Regions from separate parts of the Homo sapiens genome. Here all the other regions are linked to region 1. The links come from fine-mapping of genetic effects on gene expression. A gene starts in region 1. Each other region holds a variant in brackets. All regions are shown on one strand. Distances are between the middles of the regions. Region 1 holds the start of PDE4DIP (phosphodiesterase 4D interacting protein). Region 2 overlaps PDE4DIP (phosphodiesterase 4D interacting protein). Region 3 overlaps PDE4DIP (phosphodiesterase 4D interacting protein). Region 4 overlaps PDE4DIP (phosphodiesterase 4D interacting protein). Region 5 has its middle 9.1 kb from the start of RNVU1-1.

The links.
Region 2: its variant is fine-mapped to the expression of PDE4DIP in whole blood (TOPMed, PIP above 0.99).
Region 3: its variant is fine-mapped to the expression of PDE4DIP in whole blood (TOPMed, PIP above 0.99).
Region 4: its variant is fine-mapped to the expression of PDE4DIP in whole blood (Lepik 2017, PIP 0.95).
Region 5: its variant is fine-mapped to the expression of PDE4DIP in whole blood (INTERVAL, PIP 0.98).

What each region holds. Positions count from the first base shown.
Region 1 is chr1:148,841,797-148,846,901 of GRCh38, reverse strand. PDE4DIP (phosphodiesterase 4D interacting protein) reads right to left here and starts at 2,474. Exons shown (of 47, transcript NM_001395426.1): 1 at 2,108-2,474. The coding sequence starts at 2,127. RefSeq lists enhancers at 1,581-2,303, 2,304-3,025.
Region 2 is chr1:149,023,809-149,028,913 of GRCh38, reverse strand. PDE4DIP (phosphodiesterase 4D interacting protein) reads right to left here. Exons shown (of 47, transcript NM_001395426.1): 41 at 4,230-4,469; 42 at 2,083-2,199; 43 at 1,287-1,513; 44 at 211-354. Among named protein-coding and RNA genes, the nearest start is that of NBPF9, 77 kb to the left of the region's middle. The variant G/A (reference allele first, on the strand shown) is at 1,943.
Region 3 is chr1:148,935,578-148,940,682 of GRCh38, reverse strand. PDE4DIP (phosphodiesterase 4D interacting protein) reads right to left here. Exons shown (of 47, transcript NM_001395426.1): 8 at 2,819-2,936. It also overlaps the pseudogene RNU2-38P. Among named protein-coding and RNA genes, the nearest start is that of PDE4DIP, 94 kb to the right of the region's middle. The variant C/T (reference allele first, on the strand shown) is at 2,503.
Region 4 is chr1:148,986,759-148,991,863 of GRCh38, reverse strand. All of the region lies in intron 24 of PDE4DIP (phosphodiesterase 4D interacting protein), which reads right to left. Among named protein-coding and RNA genes, the nearest start is that of NBPF9, 110 kb to the left of the region's middle. RefSeq lists an enhancer at 1-24. The variant A/T (reference allele first, on the strand shown) is at 2,145.
Region 5 is chr1:148,350,844-148,355,948 of GRCh38, reverse strand. It overlaps the pseudogene TRQ-CTG9-1. Among named protein-coding and RNA genes, the nearest start is that of RNVU1-1, 9.1 kb to the left of the region's middle. RefSeq lists enhancers at 804-1,613, 1,614-2,424 and a silencer at 2,193-2,292. The variant G/A (reference allele first, on the strand shown) is at 2,529.

The sequences.
Region 1 (5,105 bases):
CAAAAGGCCCTGATACACTCACTCCCATCACCATCAAGTGGTCATCTAGCCTTTGCCTGAGTAACTCCAGGGTCAACAATCTCTTTACTGCCCATACTGCCCAGGCAGCTAACTTGTTAGAAAGCTTTTTTTTAATTTTTTTTTGAGACGGAGTCTCGCTCTGTCGCCCAGGCTGGAGTGCAGTGGCGCGATCTCGGCTCACTGCAAGCTCCGCTTCCCGGGTTCACGCCATTCTCCTACCTCAGCCTCCCAAGTAGCTGGTACTACAGGCGCCCGCCACCACGCCCGGCTAATTTTTTTTGTGTTTTTAGTAGAGACGGGGCTTCACTGTGTTAGCCAGGATGGTCTCAATCTCCTGACCTCGTAATCCGCCCCCCTCAGCCTCCCAAAGTACTGCAATTACAGGCGTGAGCCACCTCGCCTGGTCTTTTTTTTTTTTTTTTTTTTTTTTTTTTTTGAGGCGGAGTTTCGCTTTTGTTGCCCAGGCTGGAGTGCAATGGCTTGATCTCGGCTCACCACAAACTTCTCCTCCCGGGTTCAAGCGATTCTCCTGCCTCAGCCTCCGGAGTAGCTGGGATTACAGGCACGTGCGACCACGCCCGGCTAATTTTGTATTTTAGTAGAGATGGGGTTTCTCCATGTTGGTCAGGCTGGTCTCGAACTCCCGACCTCAGGTGATCCGCCTGCCTCAGCCTCCCAAAGTGCTGGGATTACAGGCATGAGCCACTGCACCTGGCCAGAAAGCTTTTTCTTTACACTGAGCCATAACTCGCCTCCCAACAACTCGCTTGCATCGGTTGTTCTGTCCTCCTAAGAGATTCTAATGTGATTCAATCCCTCTACCACCAATAGCTCTTCGGAAATTTGAAGGAAGCTACCACATCCTCCCCACTCCCAGTCGTCATTTCTCCGGACTCAGGAGTCCCAGGTCCTTCCTTTGGCCATCCCTCAAGGCATGGCTTTGAGTTCCCTCCTGTCTCTTGATTGTACTTATTTTATCTAATGATGCCCAGAACTAAGCACAGCCCTCTCGGAGAGGCCCAAGAGGAGCAGAAAGGAGCCAAAAGTAAAATCATCACTTTTGATCTAGACAGAATCTAGACAGCCTACTTCTTCTGTCAACAAACCCTAAGCTTCAATTTGCTCCTTCTTTAATATTCACATTATACCATTCACTCCTGTTGAGCTTAGCAATCAACTAAAAGCACCCAAGTCTTTTGCATAAGCCCCAAATTTACCTTCTGTGTTTGTACCGTCTTCACTCTCTCAGGAGTCAGAGCGCTCATTTGGCCCCACCCCAATTCTCCAAAGCTAAATCCCACAGATGGAAGCGTATCTGTTATAGAGACACCGCTGGAATAGTCTCCCTACCCTCCCACCCACTAAAAAACAGAAACGAAGTCTTTGTCTCAATACATGGTCTCTTATCCTTACCCTTTCCTTGAATGGGGCTTCATTTTAAAGTGTGTCTGGGGGAAGGACTGGAAGAAAACGCAGTTTCACAGGCCATCTCCAAAATCTGACCTAAAAGCCAACTGTTGCCTGGCCTCAATAAAGCCTGAGCAGTGTGGTGCCCTGATCTCTTTCCTTCTCCATTCCTCCCCCAAGTGGGCTCCAACTGGAGGTTGTGGAGATGAGTGCTGCTGGGCTCTGCTCACTCAGTCCCTTTGCCTTTGTGTGAGTAGTGACAGATGAGGCTGAGAAGGAAAACGTGGCAGGGTGAGAATAAACCTGATATTGTTCAAAGCATCTGACATCAAACATATCTCTCAAGAAGACCTACTGGAATCCCTCTAGCCACACGAACAAGGAAACGACAGAGAACCATTTCTACAGAAAGTTCCAGGCGGCCTCCCTGGGTATTTTTAACATCAGGACTCGGTGGAGGGGAGAGTCATTAAGCAAGGGAAACCCCGTAAAACAGAACATGTGAAAATGACCAAGAGAGGTGGGCTGGGAACCAGGCAGGGCGAGGCTACAGAAAAGGGAAGCTGTCACGGGACCCTGGTGGTGAGGGGCGACCTCTCTCTCCCTAAGGGCGCTGGGGGAGGGGAGGGAGGAGGACCACCAAGTCTGGAGCGCGGCGAGAAGGAAACAGCCCACCTACCTCGTCCAGGTCTGCTCCATTTTCCAGGCTCTTTCCTTAGTCTCAGGACGCTCCTCACCCGGGAGGGGAAGCAGCCTGGGAAAATGAGAAGCCTTGCCCACGAATCTCCAGCGCAAAAGGCAGCAGCTTTTTCCTCCCCAGCTCCTTTCTGCGTCGGCGGCGAAGAGAGAGCTCTGCTCCCTGCTTTTTTAGAAAATGGATTTGACGTGGCCGAACCTGCGGCTAGCCGTGCGACCCGCACAAGGGAGGGACTGTTCTCAGTAGGAGGCTGGACTCAGAGCGGCGCGGCGCCCGGGGCTGTTTCGTGAGCTGGAGCCAGCGGCTGCCCGGGCCGCGGTGCGCGCACTCTCCAGGCTGAGACACGACTGGCTGGCACGAGTTGCTCGGCACCAGCTGAGCTGTCAACCGCGAGCGGAGGCGGGGCTCCCGACAACCAGTGTGCTGGGGCAGAATCGGCCCAGGTTACACGCCCCCTGAACCACCCTCGCGTCTCCCCGACCCCTCTCTCGCTGGCTCAGATGAATGATGACGGCAGAGGGCAGAGAGCTTAGAGGACGCGGTACCAAGCCCCGTCCCTCGCCCATCCCAACGAAGGTCTTAGAATACAATCAACCAACTACAGGAAGAATTTGTAGAGGAGGTTTTCTTGTGTGTCTGCATCGCCCCACCCACAGGTAACCCCAGAGCCAGAGATGGAGTCTAGGAAGGTTTAGGAGCAATCCCGGCTGAATGCAGATGTATACCCTACGTGGTCATGGAACACGATGTTGTCTTCCTAGAGATGTGACATGCCAGTTTCACCATTAATCCAGGGACAGGACCCTTCATCAGGAAGGGAAGCATCCCAACAAAACCTTACAGCCCTATTAGCTGCCTGTATCCCAGACATCTCCTGTTTTAGGGTATTCTACCTCCTCGTTTTTCAGTTTCGCCAGCAACTGGGCTCTACCAATAGCTTCAAGGAGGGAGAAGCTTCCTGACTCCCAGAACACTAGAAAAGCCTCAAGACAGTAGCCATCAGGACCTCGACACTCCCTTGTGACTGTTTTAAGATCATGGAAAAGGCCTCTTTGGAGATGGCATTGCCTCAGGCCCTGTACCATGTACTTATGTATCAAGATTTAAACAAGGCAGACATACTATAATTAGAGTGCTTGCCACCCTGAAGCTCCTTTTTAGCTTTCAAATAAGACCGTTTTATTAAATGACATAATCACTGTTATTATTAGCACTATCACTGACCTTTTTTTTTATCTGAAAAAGGCTTTATAGTGCCCACATGTGGCAATGTTAATTTCGTTGTACTTGTTTCAGAGATGATAAATTTGAGACCCCAAAAGGCCCAAAGTCTCTGCTAAGGTTCTGATACAGGCTGTGTTCTCCATTGGGTGGCCCCAGAGATATGTTCCCTGAATTTCTAAAGCTACGACCCACAAGACTTCTCCAGGATGAATTTATTCTTTCAGGCCTCCTAGGCATTTAACTCAGGAAGAACCTGGCATGCCTGGGTATTGGTGAGACTGTGGGGAGTCTGTGTTCTTGGGGGAACCTGTCATCTGTCTGTTATCTCTTGGATTGGTTCCCCTACATACTAGTACAAAGTAGGGGTGGGGAGGGGAGGATAACAAAACATTTGAAGGTTTAGCAGAACTGTCTAAAAAGCCCCTAGTCTAGACTCCTCCAACACTTGATTTATTGGTAGGACCACACTGCTCCAGAGCTCAAAATGTTACCAGGAAAAATTTCAAGGTCCAGTTTGATCTTAGACAAGGCTCACAGGCCACCTGTCTTGAAAAGAATATCCTGTTGCCTCTGATGGGGGGGAAGAAAAGGCAGGGAGAGTCAGATTCCCATCCTTCATACCAAAGTTGGGGCTATATTTAGCTTTGTCTCAAATCAAATTATGGGCTACCGAGTTGTGGAGAGGAACTCTGTCTACAGGCAGCTCACTGGATTCAAGAAATGATAGCACTAACTAGGTGAGCTGTGGGGTCTCAGAAGTGACGCTAGAAAATACGTTCATGTATTTTTAAAATAACTTTTTTCAAAAGTTTATAGCACATTCATTGTAAAAACATTTGAAAAATACAGAAAGTTATATAGATTACTCAGAATACCCAGGGATCTTCAATATTAAAAATGTGTTGCATTTTTTTCCCACTCTTTAAAAAATGCATCTTTTAATCCAAACACCAACTCTTTCTTACACACATGGGTATATTCTTGAGAAGAGAAATTTCCTTGTTGTTTTAAAAATTATACTTATTGTCAAAAGAACAATTTTTTTGCGTTAGATTTCAGAAGAAAAATATTCACCCATATAACCACTGCTACAGCACAAATGTTTAAATTTCTCCAAATTCCCTTTAGTCATTATCTATATATATTAAATATCTATTTACATAATTACGATTACAGCTTAGGTATATGTTTATATTCTCCTTCTTTCACTTAGTAAATATTTGTCCATGTTTTTAGGGAAAGTTCATAGTTATTATTCTAATGAGTGTACAATATTTTATAATATTAGTAGGACCATAGATTACTTAAAATATTCTACTATTGCATAGTTATGCTGTTTCTGATATTAGACTGTTATAAATAATGCCTTAATGAAGAGCTTTCTGCCTTTATCATTCTCCTTTTTTGAATTATGCTATGGTTGAATGTATGTATGCCTTCAAAATTCATACATTGGTACTTAACACCGAGTGTTATAGTACTACAGGGTGGGGCCTTTTAGGAATATGTCTTAGGAAGTGATAAGGCATGAACACTCCACTCTCATGAATGGGATTAGTGCTCTTAAAAAAGAGGTTGAAAGGATTGCTCTGGTCCCTTTTGTCCTCTGTCCCTCCAGCCATGTGAGGACACAGCATCTGTGGCAACAAGGAGCCATCTTGGGAGCAGAGAGCAAGCTCTTCCAGACACTGAATCTGCCAGCACCTTGATCTTGGTCCAGCCTTCAGAACTGTGAGAAATAAATTTCTATTATTTA
Region 2 (5,105 bases), 180 kb before region 1:
GGTGGGGAATGGGATATATTCAGAGCTGTAATGAAAGCAGCCACCATGGGTCAGAGATGTCCCTCCAGGGACACTCCTCTAAGTTCCTGTCTATCCCAACTCACTATGTGGCTCCTGATTTTCTGGAAAAGCTGTGACATTGAGGAGACAGAACAGTATTGGAGGGCAGGAGAACTGGGTTTGAACCAAGAAAGGGCACTGGCATCTTACCACTTTGCCAGGCAGCACAGGGATGTGGGTGCTTGGCAGGGCCGCTCTCCAGAACATGGTGAGGAGGGAAGCTGACTCCTCTAGGGCATGGTGCAGGGCACTGGTGCTGCTCCGAAGCTCATGAATACCTTTGCTGCCTAGCACCTGGGGAAAGGTAACACCACAGGAGCGGAGAGATTACTTTCTTCCCCCTGCATGGGCTCAAGCTTCCTTTGTGAGTGAGGCATAGAACATGGGCCTGCTTGAACCTGTGAAGCCCTCACACAACCATTTGCAGCTCTCAGAACTAAGGTGCTGCTCCCTTTACCAGGAATGCCTTCCTCCACCTGCAGAACCCACAAGGCTTTCAAAACTCACCCCCCTTGCTATGTCCTCTATGAGCCTGTTACCTTCCTTGCCTGAGATAAATGACCACATTTGTATTGGAGCTCTCACAGCACAGAGGATGACTTCTCATACTGTGCCTGTAGCCCCTTACTGTGCTTATCTACTTGGGTGTGTGTCTTGCCCTCTAGTGTGGGGGCTCCGTGGAGGCAGGGCTGTCCCTACGCATCCATGGGTCTCCAGCAGCTCAGACAGCACAGCCACAGGTTCCTGGTCTCTCTCACTGGCAAGGTGCTCTCAGAAGCTTTGCTGACTGCCTTCCCTCCCTCTATGCAGTCTGCACAAGGAAATGACATGGCTGCCAGGCTTCTCACCCCTTCCACATGTGGGGGCCATACACCTGCAAATCCTTCAGTTTCTATCCATCCCATTGAGTTGACTCTGCCCACAGATGGTCATGTGCCTGCATGACTATGGTAGATAATAAGCTACCAAAGGCTGCTAGGCAATGCCACATGTTTCTGTGGGGCTGAGGGGAAATATCCAGTCAGCTACATCTGGAACAGAGCAGAACTCACAGTGAAAATAGGAGATAGAGAAGAAAGGGCCTGGCTGCTATACATGGAAGAGGAAGTCTCAGCTGTTGAGAGATGCAAAGCATGAAAAAAACAAAAATGGTGGGAGAAGGAGTTAACATCAAAGGAAGAAAGGGCACAGGGAAAGAGTGCACCTAAAGCTTCAGGTGTGATTACCTCTGTGCCTTGGGCTTCAAGGCCAGGGAAGCTGCACGCTGATCTCACAAGAGACACTATCTTTTTGACCAGCAGCTTGCCCTCCGCAATCTGCTGTCTTAGGGCACTGTAGTCATCAATGTGGCCAATGACATGGCGGCCATGCTTATTGGCAAAGGAGCCATCAGTAGCATCACCCTCTAGCTTGGGAGGGGTCTTCATTACTGGAGAAGTATCCAAACCCAAGCCTGAAAAAGAAAATGACAACACAACAGAATCTTCTGTTATTCATAATGATATCCTCAGTTTGCTCCAACTAAAAAAGAGGTAGGGAACAAGAAAAGGACGAGGCCGGGAACAAGAAAGGAAGCCTGGGAATGTACAAGGGTGGGGCAAAGTCCATAGAGATCTTCTGGCTTCTATATTTTTATAATCTTTCTTACATTATCTCTTAATGATAAATTTGCCAGGAGACAATTTTTTCCTTATTGGCAAATGAAATAGGATGAATCATAATAAATAATAAGTTTCTGAGTAGAGAAGACACAGACAAGGAAGTCAAGCTGGATACAGACAGCATTTTCAAGAATAGAGAGATTATGGTGCAATGAAGCAAAAACAGCAGTAGGAAAACTACAGGAGGATGAACAATGGCAAGAAAGGCAGCCACAGAAGGT[G/A]CAGGGAGTAGGGCTAAAGGCCTTGGGGCATGCAGAGAAAACTCTCTAAATACAGATAATATGTTTAGAGACAACAAAAGGTTGTTTGCATTAATCACTTTCCATCATCAGTCCCTGGGCCCTTTAGTTGCCATATTTACCATTTGCTCTGTTGATTATGGGCGTTTCTGAGCCAGGAGTAGAGGAAGCAGAGCTGGGGAAGACCAGAGCTGGGGAATTCATACCAACATCCCGGACTGGAGGGGACACAGCTGAATCTAGGGGGTAAAGGCAACCACAGTTTTCAGGAGCCCTGGAACACACTGCACATGAAGCACATGCACACCTAGCTGTCCCCACTGAGACCTAAGGTGGCAGGACTCTCCTCTTACAGAATTATCCATACCCCACAAGCCAAAGCAAAATCAAAAGCCTATGAGTCACTGAGTTCAGAATGTTTCCATTCTTCAGAACAAAAAGATATTCCTGTAATTGAGGGGTGTTCCATGAGAACGTAACTTCTAGTTTGAAAAATTATTAGGTGTATTTTTATAAACCGAGTCTTAAGTATAATTTGTGTGTGGTATCTAATATGATGCCCTGTAACTAAATGTAATATGTATAAATATACATAGTACATATTAAAATCTAGAATCAAAGAATCAAGGAATGAATGGATTCATGGGGGACTCAACATTCTAGTCATCATTCTGATGAGGTAATACTGAAAAAAATTGACTTGTATGAGAAGAACGGAGACAGAAGGCTTGGTGGGTTAACATTGTCTTGCTGGAGACTAAAAAGCAACCCTATGGTGGAGGAATTGGAAAATATCACAAAGAAGGTAGAAAAGGTCCTGCTCAGGCAAGTGTGGCCCAGTGCCTGCTTTCCAGCTCAGGCCTCCGGGGTGCTAGAGAAAGAGGGGCAGGGACTGCATCAGTGGGGCTGAGTCTTGGCTGCTGTATGGGAAGCCAGTGAGAGAAGAAGGCCTGGTTAGAAGGAAGAGTTGGAGACATAACTGAACACCACAACCATCAGGGCAGCCCAGAGGAGGGCAAGGTGTCCAACTAATGTAAGCTGAGCAGTGCCTGGTGGTCAGGCGGTTTGCTTGGTGGACCACATGTGTTTTTTTATTGAATTGCCAAAACAGCATAATCATGTTATTGTCACCTTCATTTGACAAATAAGGTTACTGTCAGATAAATGAGAATCTACAAGAACCACAGAAAAACAAAGATTAACATGACCCAGAAATAGCTGGCAGGAGAGTTTGAAAGCTCAGCTTTAGAGAAACTGAACAGAAGTGGTTCCTGATTTGAATAAAATTGAAGGTATGGCCATGGAGGTGAGTGGAGATGGTGTACTAAACGGTGTATCAAAAGGAGAAAAGGACAGAGGAAGTAGAAATTGAATGATTTAAGAGACTAGGGGGACACCATTGACATTTCAATGAAAACTGGGAGAAGTGAGATTGATAGAGGATATTGAGAAGGGGGACCTGGTCAAACACGCCTATCTGAAAAGGCAGGCAAGGGGTGGGGTAGAGAAAGCGAATGATGACCACCCGAAATAAATCACCCACCATCCAGGACTTCCCCAGAGCCCTGTTTCCTTAGGGGCAGGAACATTTTACCATACACTGAGTTCCCCACCTGTGAGGGAAAGGGGGACTAGAGAATCTGGGAAGGTCGGCAATACTGAGACAGGGCACAATGAGCTGGAAGGAACACAGACTGAAAATCACAACATCTGGTTCTGATCCTGGCTTTGTCTATAACTTCTCTAAATCCCCGCTTGTCTGTTAATATCTCAGGACCTAAGTTTTCTTATGTGAAATACAGAGATAGCAAAACCTGCTTTACTTCAGATGAAATTATATATGTGAAAACACTTGGCTAAAACTAAAGCACCAAGCAAATCCAAGAAAAAGATATGAACATATACAGCTGCTAATTATTGAGTAATTCTTAGTGTGCCAAGCACTTGTAAATGATTTCATTTAATGCTCAAAATCATATAAGGTACATATGATCATTATCCTCATCTTAAATATAAGGAAACTAAAGCTTAAACCTCTGAGACTTTAGACACCTTGCCCAAATCAAACGACCTCTAAGTGGTAAACTCAGAATCTGGAGCCCAGTCTGACCTAAATCCCACGCTTTCACTCAGGTTGCTAGACTAGAGCATCTCTGATTTCAACCTGACCCTAAGGAGCATGGACCAGGCAGATTACACCTTCTGCCGCAGAACTTCCTGGTGATCTCCCCACTGGCCAAGGGCTTTCTAAGTCCCTTTTCCTTCCTACCTTGGAGGAGCAGCTGCTTGTTTCCAGGGTCAGTGCTGGCTGGGAAGTTCTGGTTAATGGAGGAGGGGCTGAGGCTGGCTTTGCCAGCACCGCTCTCCAGCTGCTGTTGCAGCTGCAGTCGCAGACAATTGTTCCCCTGAATGCTCTGCTCCAGCTGCCCTCTCAGAGCTCGTACCTCTGCCACCAGGTGGCTCAGGTCACTGCTCAAAGGGATTTGGTGACAGGCATCCAGGCTGTAAGCTGAGAGAGAAGGAGTCTGGTAACATTGACCCAAGTATTTCCAAGCACTTGTCAGAACCCTCCTCTGTGACATTCTTTTCTGCCAAGGACCCCACTATCATCTGAGTCTCATGCAACCCATCTGTGATGGAGATGTCACCATTTCTGTGTGTGGCCTGGGGATGGCACTGAGCTGGCACACATCCAGTCTGAAACTTCCCTGCGGCTTAAGTTACACACATGCACCTATAGAGCATTTGATTGGCAGATGAAGATAAGTCCATATTTCATCTCCATAGTAACCTTAATCCTGTAGGCTAAAGTATAGGATACTCCAAGGTAGAAGGTCAGCACTGAGCTAGAGAAGGGTAGGGGATGAGGAAGAAAGAGATTTCATAGTCCTCACTCTCAAAAATGAAAGAGAAGGAGGAGGTCTTTTGGTAGCATGTGAGAATGTGAGTTGGGCACCTTAGACGAGGGATTATAACTGAGTTTTTCAATTTCTCTCTCTCTCTTTCTCTCTCTCTCTCTATATATATGTGTGTGTGTGTGTACATATATATACACCTACATATAGTGTGTTTATATATGTTGTGTGTATATACATACTATATATAGGTGTATATATGTGCACACATATACATGTACATATATATG
Region 3 (5,105 bases), 94 kb before region 1:
GAGCTTTCCAACTTGGGTATTCCAGCACAGTGTACCTCAGCATGGTCCACCACTGTGCAAAGATGCTGATCCCCTCAGCTCTCAGGGTGGTGCATGGGTCCTGAGGTGGCCATAAGCAATTGCCTCAAACCATGAGCAGCCATGGGCACTTATTTCAGAATACCATAGATGTACACTCATTTCCTATGAAAATGAATTTTCTATGAAAAAGGGTAGGAAACATTGTCTTATAGAACAAACAGCGCAATGTATCAGGTTTTGAAATGTACAACGTATTGGGTAATAACAACAATAAATTTTTATTAGGCAATGTTTAAAAAGCATATCAATTTAGTACAGTTTATATGATTTGATGCATTTCTTCTGCCCAATGGTCATGCAATATTATCCCCTGGATGCTGTACTTATTCTTGTTCTAAGCATCCTTTTAGAGTAGAATATAAATAATTTAGTCTCTTTGAAATTATAATCTTTTGGTTCTTTAAGTCTGTTCTGAAAACTGGTACCAAACCAATTCCTTAATTAGCATTGAAAATACTGAACTAAATATATTCATTTCAGTGCTTACCAAAGATGATGAAAATAAGTATATGTACAAAATATTTTAGTATTTATGTGCCTGTAAATACAAAAGGAGCAATAAAAGTGATTTCATTTCAGAAGGTGAACATTTTGAAAGAAATAATATTCATGTAAATTCTGAACTAAAATAGAATGAAATAAAATTCTGAAATAAGATAAAAATAGAATGTTAGCATTATAGGAAACTATAGAGATTATTTGAGCTAATCTTCTCATTTTATGTATATGGAAGCTGAGAAGTGACATATCCATAGTCATACAGCTAATAAATAATCAGGATGGAATCGCTTCTCGGCCTTTTGGCTAAGATCAAGTGTAGTATCTGTTCTTATCAGCTTAAATAATCAGGATGGAAATTCAATTCTTCTTATTCTCAGTTGAGCTTTTTCTAATTAAATGTATTACGAAATATTTTCAAGAGTCCCTTAAGAAAATTTCCACATATTTCAACATGTATCTTGCAAAAAGCCTATGAACTTCAATTTGTATTCATACTTGTAAAATTATGTTCACACATTATTTCTTGAGTTTGTTAACCAATGCTTTCCAACCAAAATGGAGCTGCAGTCTAAGAAGTTTGTAATTGTGGCCAAGATAGTAATTTTTTCCTGCCCTCATAGTGGCCTAAGCACCCAAATTGGCCACCTCCAAGTGAGAAGCTTCATCCATTTACCTCTATACCTTACAAATATTATCATTTGCCATGAAATGGAAAGGTTGGGAAGCAGTGGTTTAAACTAATTCTTATCATTGCTCTTTTATCTTGACCCCAACCTTTCCATATGTGAACCAGTAAAGTAAACCACCCACATTTTGTCTTATCAGTAGTCTAAGACCAGTGCAAGAATGTAAGGATACCAGGTAATTGCTTTTGTTGTTTGGGTGCAGGTATATTCTAAAGTTCTTTTAGAAAATATCTTTTTAGTAAATTAAAAGTTGAATGAAGGAGAGGAGTTCCCTTCGAGGTAACTTCCCAGAAAATCAATGCAATTATTTTTTACCACAGTGAGTTCTCTTTTCAATATTAAAACTACATTATGGCCAGGTGTGGTGGCTCACGCCTGTAATCCCAGCACTTTGGGAGGCCAAGGCGGGCAGATCACCTGAGGTCAGGAGTTCGAGACCAGCCTGGCCAACATGGTGAAACCCCATCTCTACTAAAAATACAAATATTGCTGGGTGTGGTGGCATGCACCTGTAATCCCAGCTACTCGGGAGGCTGAGGCAGAGGTTGCAGTTAGCCGAGATCATCCCACTGCACTTCAGCCTGGGCAACAGAGTGAGACTCCAACTCAAAAAAAAAAATTTTTTTTTGGAGGCAAATTTCTATCATTATCTGATACACTTGTACGGAAATAGTAATCACCATTTCAACTAGTACCCAGCACATTTTCAAGGACCTGGAAGGTTCATACTCCAATATATACAAACAGAGAATATGCCTAGCTCATAGATGATCAATAACTGTTTATTTGAACCCATAGTTTGTGTACTTCGGCACAGTATTTTACAACTTAACCCTCAAAAAAACCCCTAAAACATTGTATGTTCTATATAATTATAAATCACTTGATGTGGCTGGCAAATTCTAAGGTGGTCCCTATAATTCTCACCCACTGGCCATCACATCTTTGTGTTATCCTCACCCCTTGAGGATGGGTAGAACCTGTAACTTCTAACCAATATGGCAAAGGTCATGAAATGTCACTGCATAGTTATGCTATGTTATATGAAAAAAGTAAAGAGGTCATATAGATGTAATTAGGGCTGCTAATCAGTTGATTTTAAGTTAACGAAAAGGGATATTATGCTGGTGGGCCTGCCCTAATGAGCCCCTTAAAAGAAAGTCTAGAAGTGAGAAAAGTAACAGACTCTTTCTGCTGCTGGCTATGAAGAAGGAAGCTGCCATAACTTCTACAG[C/T]TACACAGCAATAAATCCTTCCAACAGCCTGAGGAGCTTAGAAGCCGATCCTTCCCTAGGTATGCCTCCAGATGAGAAAAGAGCCCAGTCTACATCTTGATTTCACACTTATGAGACTCCAAACAGATCTCAGCTAAGCCATATCTGGACTCTTGACTCACAGAAACTGTGAGATAACAAAAATAAGGTGTTTTAAACTGCTAAGTTTGTAGTAATCTGTTACACAACAATAGATAACAAATACACTTAGATATTAAAAAGCAGGGCTTATGAAAGCATGAAGCAAGTGCTTCTGGATGTACTGACCAAACCTTACCTGCACTTCCATGCTAGTTGGCTCCTCCAACAGATGTAGCAGTTGTTGTTTCTCCCGAGATAGCTGTTCTACAAGCCTCTCCTGGGCAGCCAGGCTCTGATTCAGTTCTTCAATTCTCCTGAAGCAAAGGAAAAGTAAGGACAGTAATTATGATCATGATACTATTATTACCTTATTTTTTCAGCCCATTCCAAAGATAGCATGGTCTAGTATAGCAGGTTTTTATCCTTTTGGATCATTGAACCTTTTGACACATTTGTTTAGAAAACCATGTATTTTCTGCCCAGCCCCCAAATATATACACAAACAACTTTTTGCTTACATTTTCACCACGTTCATGGACCTCCTGAAGTTAATCCATGGATCTTTAGACCATAGGAATTTAACTCTTGGAATAAGGGCCTAGAATTTTTTGGTGGTGGTGGTAGTGGCTGTTCCATTCAATAAACGGTTCTTGGATAACTATTTTGTGTACTCAATGCACTCTACCAAGTACTGGAAATATGAAGTTGGAAAAGAAACAATCGCTGTTTTGCAAAAATTTAAATTCCACCAGCATGTGTTTGCTAGTGATTTGGAGAGTAAGAAGACATACAGCTACAGTCACGTACCATATACTGTTTCTGTCAACATTATGTCATCATACTGCATGTATGATGATGGTCCAATAAGATTATACTGGAGCTGAAAAATTCCTATCACCTAGTAAAGTCCTAGCTGCAGTAACATCATAGTGCAATGTATTTCTCACTTGTTTGTGGTGTTGCTGGTGTAAAGCAAACCTACTGCACTGGCAGTTGTATACAAATATAACATATGTATAGTATGTAATACTTGATAATAAATGTTACTGGTTTATGTATTTACTATACTTTCATTGTCGTTTTAGAGTGTACTCTTTCTACTTATTAAACAAAATAACTGTAAAGTAGCCTCAGGCAGGTCCCTCAGGAGCTATTCCAGAAGAAGGCATTGTTATCATAGGAGATGACAGCTCCATGTGTGTTATTGTCCCTGAAGACCTTCCAGCGGACAAGATGTAAAGGTGGAAGACAGTGAAGCTGATGATCCTGACACTGTGTAGGCCTAGGCTTGTGTGTATGTTTGTGTCTTAGTTTGTAACAAAAAAGTTTAAAAAGTAAAAAAAAAAAATTAAAAATTTAAAAACAGAATAAACCTTTTCTAGAATAAGGATATAAGGAAAATATTTTTATATGACTACAAAATGTGTTTTAGGCCTTCACATTCATCCACTTCACTACTCACTCGCTAAATCACCCACAGCATGTTCCAGTGCTGCAAGTTCCATTTATGGTCAGTGCCCTAAACAGGTGTACTGTTTGTTATCTTTTATACAGTATTTTTACTGTATCTTTTCTATGTTTAGATACACAAATGGTTACCATTGTGTTACAATTGCCTACAGTATTCAGTACAGTAATATGTCATACAGGTTTGTAGCCCAGAAGCCATAGGCTATACCATATAGCCTAGGTGTGCAGTAGCCTATCCCATCAAGGTTTGTGTAAGTATGCTCTGTGATGGCCACACAATGAAGAATGAAATTGCCTAAAGATACATTTCTCAGAACATATCCCTGTAGTTTGTGATGCATGATTGTATATAAGCAAATAATAGTAATAGAATATAATAAATGCTACCAGAATAGAGGCACCATATAGTACATTGAGTGCTGCCATAGAGCTATAGGATGAAAGATAAAGAAATAATTCATTTGACTTGAAGGAGTATAGCGATGCTCAGGAGAAGAAATTTTAAAGATTGAGTGGTTTCAGAGTAAACAGACAACCTACAGAATGGGGGAAAATATTTGAAAACTATGCATTGGACAAAGGTCCAATATCCAGCATCTATAAGAAATGTAAACAAATATACAAAAGAAAAGCAACCCCATTAAAAAGTGGGCAAAGGACATAAACAGACACTTCAAAAGACGTACCTGCAGCCAACAAGCATATGATAAAAAGCTCAATAACACTGATCACTAGAGAAATGCAATCAAAACCACATGTGATACCATCTCACACCAGTCAGAATGACTATGGTTAAAAAGTCAAAAAATAACAGACGTTAGTGAGGTTGCAGAGAAAAGGAAACACTTATACACTGTTGGTGGGAGTGTTAAATTAGTTCAACCACTGTAGAAAGCAGTATGGTGATTCCTCAAAGAACAAAAAGCAGAACTACCATTCGACCCAGCAATCCCATTTCTGGGTATACTCAGAGGAATATAAATCATTCTACCATGAAGACATATGCATGCAAA
Region 4 (5,105 bases), 140 kb before region 1:
AAAAGTGATTCCCTTCACAGATGGCTTCCAGACAGCAGGTTAAATTATACTCTTTTTGCCCGCTGACTCTGATTTCTTCCTTTCTCCATATACATGGGGCAGAAATTCTCCCTAGCCAGCAGGGCTGGAAAGAAAAATAGAACTTTTTGTATCACAGACACTTTCTTACTCATACTCAAGCCTGAGCCTCACAACATAAGCTGACTTTGCCTGCACAGACCCATTTCTAAGGAGCCGACTGTCGGATGCACTGGTTACCCCACTCGAATGTCAAGAAAGCCTGAATTATTCCCCACTGCCTGGCTACATAAAAACTTTCTCTTCCATAATATGAGTCCAACATGCTTAACCCTTTCCCCACCACTGAGTGCCTGGAGATTAGAGCTGCCCTGAATCTCTCAGAGGTATCTATTGTTGGGATCAGTTGTGCATAGGGTGACAATCTCTCTGAGGAACTTCCCTCTGGGGGTCCTGTGTCCTAGTAAGGTTCAGGTCTAGTCAAGATTCAAGACACCAAAGGATTCAGTTGTTCCCTAATTTCTTCCTCTAACCTCCCTTCCTCCTCACCTCTCTCAAACTCTTATTCTATGCAGACACCCTTTGCCTGAAGGGTTTCTTGCACTGCTTTATCCCCGTGGGATTTAACCCATCCTTTCATTCTCCAGAGATGGACACAGCCACTCTAGGGCCCAAACATCTACACCTTGCTCTAAGGTACAAGTAGCTGCAGTTTGTGGTATGGGCAAAGGTCTAAGGCAGCACTGACCAAGAGGACTTTCTGCAATGACAGCAATGTTCTGTGCCAGTGTTGCCCAGTACAGTGGACACAGTCATATATGGCTATTGAGCTTTGAAATGTGGGTAGTATGGCTCACATTTCAAAGCATTGAATCTTAAATTTTATTTAAATTTACTTATATTTAAATGACTGCATGTGGCTAGTGGCTACCCTATTGGACAGCACAAATCTAGGGTGTGTCTTCCTCCTTATATTGATTAAAATTAAGACTGTTCATACATTTTAAGACCAAGAGCTATGTTTTATATACTGTATTTTTCAGGAAGTGTAGAAATTTATTATGGTTAATTTGTCAAAGAAAATTTACTGTGACACTCACTGTGTCTTATAGAACCTCCCCAACTTAAGAATCTTGAAATCTTGTTCTGATCCTAGCCTCGGCAACCAACCAGTTACAACTCCACTTCTGACCACTGATTAACCTGGACCTCTAAGAGATTACGTGGTGAGTCCAAGGTTACACAACTAGCCCTCACTAGAGCTGCGCCAGTAAGTCAAGACTCTGGACTCTTAGACAGAAGCCACTCACTTTTCCTTCTGGTGACAAATCTGATCTTTATCTTTGCTTCTTCCTCCAAGACCAAAGAACCTTCTGTTGAGTTCAGACATCCAGGCATGAAAGGCTCTGCTTGAATCATGAGCATTCACTACCCAATACAGATAAGGGGCTTACCTTATCTCCGTAAGGAATTCGACGGAGACAAATAAATGCTCATCTCATCTCGACACTGCCACACAGGGGTTTTGTTTCTTCCCCTTCATTCTCTCTTTTTTAAGCTAGCTCACAGTCTTCTTCCATTATGGCAGCTTTAAGGGTTGCTCAGCCTTTTACCAATTTGAATTAAAATGCTGAAACTTTTTCTCCCATGTTTGAGGGGGCAGTTCACATCTATATATTTGCAATGGCCCAGGCTGATCTCATGGAAGTGCTAAGAGGTAGTAAGTATGCTGTGATAACAGCTTAGGTTTCCTCATCTACACCATGAACTTTATGTTAACTTTGGATCAAGGAAGGGTCCTGTTCAGTGAAGCCTCTACCACCTCTACCACTTAGCATCTTTAGAGGTCTGTGGCAGACAGTGTACAAGAGTTATTTCCAATACTTACTCATTCAAACCAACCCCAGAAACCATCTCACTCAGGATACTAGCTGAGTAGAGGTGTATGGACACATTCCCTAATCTTTGGCTGCTTTAAAAACCTACTGAAAACCAGGATACTAATTTACCTAGGACACCCACATCATGTTATGCTTACTTTGGAAAATCTTTCCCTGTACAACAGTAGCGATCACAATCTTTTATGTTTTTCCAGCAAAGGAAATGAATTGTCTCACTCAGTGACA[A/T]AAAACAGACTGTTCACATTGTTTCTCTTTTGAACATGGGGCTAGAGAAGGATCCTGTAGTTGAAGAAAGCACAGCTCTATGAGGTCAGGATCCTCATCCCCTACCATTGTTGCTGGGTTGTGGAGTCAGGCTGGGCCCACATCCCAGGACCATTCCTGCCAGGTTCCAGAAGCGAGAATTGGAAAGGGTGACTATCACTGGTCTTGAAGGTTTTTATCTGACACTTTCTGCCCTCCACTTATCTTTGGCAGCCTTTCTGGTGCCACGTCTGCATTCTTGGATAATGCTCCATCTTATTTCACTTAAGAGCAGGATGCTATGGTTCTGGCTTCATAAGGAATTCGACGGAGACAAATAAATGCTCATCTCATCTCGACACTCTGCCACACAGGGGTTTTGTTTCTTCCCCTTCATTCTCTCTTTTTTAAGCTAGCTCACAGTCTTCTTCCATTATGGCAGCTTTAAGGGTTGCTCAGCCTTTTACCAATTTGAATTAAAATGCTGAAACTTTTTCTCCCATGTTTGAGGGGTAAAGCTAAAAAATTTATAGAAAATATGGGAATAAAAGAGTAAGTTATCTCATACAAGGTCCATACAAGACATTAGACATCTTTTACCATTTTCCATTTTTTTAAATAAATGAGAGAACTTCTCTTGTGTGATACCCTTTTCTAAACTTTTACTGCACAACGAAACACTGTCTTCAGAACTAACTTGGAATATTTTGAATTTCTAATTTAAGGTACCTATGATTTTATATTGATGACTCGTCTGCTTATTTTTTGATAAAATATAAAATAGCCTGCCGCCTTTAGATTCTCTGGGAGCTAAGAATCTGTTCATTTAACTTGCTTCTTCGAGATTAAGTTTTACATGTTAGACTGGCAATTTTATAAAAAACTTTTATTTGAGGCTTCAATAAAAGTTCTCAACTTGTGGTTCTTGGAAGTTTCTAGGCTCTGAACAATACAAAATGGAGGTGATACCAAGATGTCCCTTATTTAGAAAAGTATTTTCTATCAGCTATCTAATTCTACAAAGTACACAAAAATAAACCTCTAAAACATAAGACCATAAAATCCTTGGGTGAAAATGTAAGCGTTATGCAAATATAAGGTATTCTTATCACTGAAGCAAAAATTCATACTTTTGTAGAACTTTTTAAATTGAGTATGGCATAATAATTAAGAACAAGAACTATGGAGATAGACTGTCTTGATTTGAATTGTGCTTTTATTGTTAGTTATGTCACTTCAGGCAAGTCATAACCTTTCCATAACTAAGTTTCTTCATTTAATAATTAGGGTTAAGAGTGTTACCCACTCCATACTGTTGTGAACTTTAAAGGGTTTGCTGATTTTGAAGTGCTTAGAACAGTGCTTGGTACACAGTGTGTACTCAATAAATACCATCCTTAAACAATATTATTATTGTTATTGTAAGTAAACTGAAGTAGTCCATGGGCTTATAAGTTGAAGACTGAGAAAGTTGAAGGCCACAGAACCTAAATAGCATCAGCAGAAGGAAGTTTTATACTTGATGTTACTATCTGAATGATCTTGACTGATTCTACCTGCACTTCTTCATTTCTGAATACTTGTTTCCCCAGCAGGAGGCTTGAAATGACACTCTTTGCTCTCTGCCTCACAGGACATTGAAAAGGTAAGGAGTGACAACTCTTTGGCTGAACTCTTTGGAATAGGTGCCTTACAAAAAGGACTAATCATCATTAAATGATAACTGTCTTAAAACTCCAACATGCACAAATAAGCCTTAGGGGGAACTTCATGACCTCTTTTTTTGTTTTATTTTGCTTTACAGATGAGGTCTCATTATGTTGCCCAGGTTGGTCTTGAACTGCTGGGCTCAAGGGATCTTCCCACCTCAGCCTCCAAGTAACTGTGACTACAGGTGCATGCCACCACACCTGGCTCATGACATGTTCTTTAGTAATGAGTCCAAACTGGGTGGAGTCAAGACCATTTCCCCCCAATTCTACTCTGTAGTCATTATCTTCCTTTAAGCCACTAATATGGGATAAACAGAAAAGGAGTGATGTTTTTCCATATAGTTACTTAGAACATAGCAAGAGATCATATTTTATTAATTTTAAAAGGTGATCTGAAGAACTAAAACTTTAAGCATGAATAAGTTGGCAGTGCCAAGTGTTCTTTCCTTCGGTACCGGGCCCTTGTGTCTAATACTCTCAGCCCAATTTCACTCTGACTCCCAGGTACACTGCCATGCGTTCATTACAAGAACGCTCACATTTTCACGTCATGAACCAACTATTGCTGACTTTAATGTTATGGTGCTGTAATGTTATGGAGAGAATCAAGGAAAAGAGGCCTCCTATCAAACTACAATTTCACCTGCACACATTCCCTTCAGGATCATAAGAAAACTATTAAGATTCCATATAGTCCTCCATAGTTTCTGCTAAGAAATAAAATTCTCTATCTAGACAGATTCTGATCGTGGAACAGAAGTGGTAGAAAACTGCTGTCTGCAGTCAAACCCCTTTATGGTGTATCTTTGTCTTTAAATTGCAACATCTCTTAAGTAGCCTTAGGGCTTTCCAGCTCACATGTTTCAGAAAGTAGCTGTTTTAAGTTACTTGAAAAGGCCAAATCATAATCTAAAATACTTTTGGGGGTATGAAATCCCATTAAAATTCTGGAAAGAGTTTCTACTTCTCCAAAAGGGTAATTATTCAATACAACTACAGTCTTCTATCCTTAGGCTAACCAAGGCACATGTAAATTAGGACTCCCAGGCAGACCAGGAGATATGACCACTGCACCTATTTTGTGATGCCATAATTCTGTAATGTCAAGAAATTCTTCCTGCTCATGGTCTCTTTTATTCTTCAAAGAAAACGAGAAATAGGTTTTTCTAGGAATGTTTAGAGACAGCACTACCCACCACAGTTGGCTCCTGAAACCTCTGTCGTGCTTTCT
Region 5 (5,105 bases), 490 kb after region 1:
TGCTACAAAACTCAGAATCTTTGAAGAGTGATACTTATGACTATAAAATATTTAAATTCAAAATACAAATGATGGCTGGGCATGGAGGCCAGCACGTAATCCCAGCAATTTGGGAGGCCCAGGCAGGCAGATCACTTGAGTCCAGGAGTTCGAGACCAGCCTGGCCAACATGGCAAAACCCCTGTCTCTACAAAATTAGCTAGGCACCGTGTTGTACACCTGTGGTCCCAGCTACTTGAGGAGGACGGGCTGAGGATCAATTTAAACAATATCATATGTAAAAACAATTTTTTTTCCTTTAAGTTTAGTCAAGTGAAGCAGTGGGAGTGGAGAAGGAACAAAGAAATCTGTAGCTAGTTGTGATAATTGGTTGTAAACAGGAAGGATTTTTGATGCACTGTACAGTTACCAGTTACATATGCTCTAAAGCTGGTGGTGAACAGCAACAACAGCAGTGTTCTGGTCCCCCCTACACTTTTTTCTAGGGATAACAATTTTGTTTTCTTCCTTCCTTCCTTCTTCCTTCCTTCCTTTTTTCCTTCTTTCTTTTCTTTTCTTTTTTTTTTTGCGACGGAGTCTTGTTCTGTCGCCAGGCTGGAGTGCAGTGGCGCCATCTCAGCTTCAGCTCACTGCAACCTCCGCCTCCCAGGTTCAAACGATTGCCTTGTCTCAGCCTCCCGAGTAGCTGGGATTACAGGCACGCGCCAAGACGCCCGGCTAATTTTTGTATTTTAGTAGAGACGGGGTTTCACCATGTTGGCCAAGATGATCATCTCCCGACCTCGTGATCCGACTGCCTCGGCCTCCCAAAATGCGGGATTACAGGTGTGAGGGATAACAATTTTCAATGCATGCAGTCAACCTCTACATATTGTTGCTCTTTGACTGCCCAGTTTTCCATCCTAGGCCCTGCAGTCCAGCCTGCAAGGGGAAATGGAATTTGTGTGTTTTCCTTCCTATCAGTCCACTCCAAGGAGCCAACAAGGCACCTCTCTCCCGTCTCCCACCCCACACCTCCGCACGCCCTCCAAACTGAGCCCCTCAAAGACTGCGGTGTTTTTCAGTCCTTCGTAACCGCTGAAAATTTTCATATTTGCAAAATATGAAAATCAGAGCGATGGTCCTGAGCGTCTGGCGGGACATCTTAGCTTGCTCTCAAGACCCACCATAAGCCGCATCCAAAGTGTTCCGCCAAGCAGAAGAAAAGATTTTTCATCTGTCGCGTCCTAAGGCATCTTCTCCTTGGGGCAAGGTACTGGCAGGAAGAGGGGGAGCCCCCACCGTCCCGCACTCATCCCTCCGAGCTGCTCAGGCTCCTCTTACCCGTGGTGCTGCGGGAGACCGGCCCGGCGACCGAAGGTCAGAACCCGCGCTCCCGGCCCGGGCGCTTGAAGAGGCCGCCGCGCGGATTTCTCTTTACGGTTGAAATTTTGGGACGAAAGAATGAGATTTCCTGGAGTCGGGTTCCAAAGCTTAGTGAAACAGCGACTTTTAGGTCCCGCAATAGAGACGTAGGAGCTAGAAATTAGGCATGGAAATCTGAATATGAAGAACAGAGTAAATTAACATTCGGAAGAGGATGGGCCATCCGAATAAAACAGTGTTACTTCTAAGTTAGGTCTCAAACCATCTACCCTAAACTGAGACATAATCACCAATGACTGAGCTAACCCCATCAAAATTTCTCACGTCACCGTTTACTTACCAAAAAGACAATGGATGCGATTACGAGATTTCCCGAGTGAAAGGAATCTCGGGGTCTAGCACTGAGGGGCCGCAGCCCTTTTAGTGTAGGAAACCTATCACCCCGAGGCCCAGGGTCGCCCTGAGAGGGGATGGGGACTTGTTCGGTTGCTGGGACGCTGGCTGCGGGGTCCGGGCCTCCGATTGCAGGGGGCCGGGAGGCTCGCCCAGGACTGGGACCAGGATTGGTGACTCCGATGGGATGTTTGGGCAATTTCCCTGTGGAGCAGGCCACTGCAAGAAGCCGGTTTCTGGGACCCAGACCACTGAGGAGGAAAAGGGAGAGGAGGAGGGACATCGTAGGGGACGCATTGCGAGGCCGGAGCAGGAGGGACACGGGAGAGGAGGAGGGACATTGCAGGGGACGCATTGCGAGGCCGGAGCAGGAGGGACTAGGGGATTTGCAGCAGCAGAGCTTCCTTCCCCGGGACCCAAACCTTCCTTTCTCTTCTTTAACCCAGGACTTGGTACGAAGGGCAAATGTAAACCACATCCCTTTCACTCTGTCTTTGAGGGTGGAGTTTGCTTCCCAAAGTGGCTTCTGGCTCCAGAGTAAAAGGCCAGCAGACACCAAGGTACCACCGAGATTTGAACTCGGATCGCTTGATTCAGAGTCCAGGGTGCTCACCATTAACCCATGGAACCAGCTGTTGAGAATACTCTCAGTTATGAGCATTTGACAAGTGAATTCTCAGCCTCCATAGTCACCAGAATTTCCTTTTCAGGTATTTTTTTCTCTTTGTCACACAGGACTTGAGTACCTTTAATCTACAATAGGAGGAGTC[G/A]CCCCAGACTTACCTCTCTCTGCCCTTCTCTTTAGGTTTCTATCTCAGAGAATGAGATTAAGCACCTTTCAGGATTAGGAACAGAGAAGAGCTATATTTAGGCCTCCACTAAAGCCAACAGTTCTGCCTGGGTTGCCAGAGTTTCCTGCTCTGAAATAAACATTCTGCCGAGACCCTCTACCCGCTGGGGTTTCTTTCTTTTTCTTTGCAAATTTCCTTTTCCCTTTATCCATGGGGCACTGATAACCATTTCTGGAACAAGATTTGGGATATGCTGGAATTTCTGCTCTTCTTATTCTGCCTTCTTCTCCTCCTCTTTCTCCTCCTCCTCTCCTTCTGTTTCCAGTCCCCTCTCTCTCCTGCTCCCTGTCTTCCTCACACTACCCCCACACCCATTTTCCCCAGCTCCCTCCAGCTTTCTATACTTCCTGCCTCCTCCTCCTTCTCTGCTCCTTTTTGGCTACCGTTCCTCTTCCTTCTCTAGGCTCCCACCCTACCCACCACCAGCCTCCCACACGCAGCCTACACTAACAGAAGAATGGCTACCACGAGCTGAGAGGAAGTTGAGGAATATGTTTCTAGTCAGGACACTTTGGGGGATCTTTGCTGGGGATTGTGAGTGCGGTGACACCAACCGAGATGATGAATATCAGCCAGTCCTTGAGGCCTGGGGAGGACCAGCAGATCCAAGGCCACCCCATACCTGGGGTGACCCAGAAGAGTCATGTTCACATTCCAAAAGGCTAAATCTGATTGCGAAAGTCCAAGGAAATTGAAAGCAGTAGGAGCCATCGTCTTTGCAAGTCCAGTTCCAAGTGGAAGGATCATGGTGCTTCCTTCCAGTCACCACAAGGTCAGCACACAGGCATTTGCATTGCCTAGGACTCAACTGGTACCCTGGATCCCTGGCTAGGGCCTGTCCAGAGAAAAGCTAGGCGTGGGGCCCATTTCCACCTAGGCAGAGGTTCCTGGGGAAGTTAGGTGCTCACCAAGAGATTGCCCCTTACCATCCTCCTGAGGGTGTGTGGAGCCTCAGCGCTGCTACCTCTTGGACTCCACCCTCCGGATGCCACCACCTCCCACTGTCCAAGCCTTCCAGTGAAGTCTCCAAGGCTCTGATTTTTGAATCATCCTGATTTGGTGCGTCAAGAGCTGCCTCCCACAAAGTGAGCAGATGTGGAGAGCTGCCAGATCTAAAAGGTAAAATCGCAAGGCATTGCCAGCTAGATAGGGACAGAGTTCCCTCTCTATTTGATGATTTGGATTCAAAGGGTAGATGTCATGGCCCCTAAACATCACAGCATGACCAGGGCATGCCACCCACGACCTGCAGTGCCCTTGCACCTGGTTAGGTGTAAATTATTTTACTGAAGCAGACAAGTGTTCTCTTCTGGACTTTTTCCTTCCTTAGTGGCTAGATCTCTCTCTCCCTCTCTCTCTCTCTCCCCCTGAGTCCCCCCATTCTCTACCCACCTTTATTTTCTCTATTTCCACCCTGTTGCCCCTCTTCCACCTGCTTTCTCCTGTTCAGCTTTCATGGTTCACCCCTTCCTTGCCCACTGGCATCCCCCAAATTAAAGCTGCTGCACTGTCCTGGGTGGGGAGGTGGGTATGGCTGTAGACAGTGCCCTCCAGACATGTCCAGGATGGGGAAACATAGTGCAGCTGCCAGCATAATGCTTTAAAAGAATGGCCACTTTCAAAAGCCTTTCACATCTCCTAATCTGGGATCTTTTGGGACTAAAACGTTATGGACCATAGTGGAATTCTTTTTCCTCCAGGACCTTGTGGTGGATGCCTTCTTTCACTGAGCTTTCATGTGTGGCTATTAAGTGCCAGTCCCTGCTCTTGGACAGGGACATCATTGTGAGCAAGTCTCAAGTCACTACTCATGGAGTGGGTCTGGAGCTCACCTCTGCAGGCATCAAGAGGTGTCAGAGAGAAAGGGGCATGGCCAGTTTGTGTCTTTCCCATGTGGCCACTCACTGAGTCCTGGGGAGTGGAAGTCAGTGCAAGGAAAGAAGCCCAGTGAGAAAGCAAATGGACAACATCAGACCTGGGGCTGAGGCCCCCACCTGCAGCGGGGCAGCCTCTGAAGCAGGCAAGGGGCAGCAGGGAAGGTCGTGGCCTGGTGTAATCTGGTGTTGGGTGCCCCAGCTCATTCATGTGGATGCCCAAACTTACCCAAAGGCAAGATTCAATATCTCTGTTCTTCAGAAGAAAATGTGTCTTCAGAGGAGAACGGAGAGGTTGGGGAACACTTTCTTACCCCCATGCTAACTGTACTTGATGTTACAGTATGGTATCTCTGTGCTATAATTAGTTAGCATGTGGTCATTAATGGAAACGATTGATGGTTTAAGCCCATTCCCAGATATTCTAGTCTTCATCTAAGTTCCCTCCCTCCCTCTTTCCCTCCTTTTCCTTCCTTCCTTCTCTTTCTTTTTAAATAGACCACTTTGCACTGAAATCTAAGTTCTTTTTCTGACATTTAATTCTCTCACAAAATTTGCCAAAATCTCTGAAGCTGCCTTTATCTTTCAGTCAGGGAGCTCATTCTGTAGCCTGCAGTTCCTC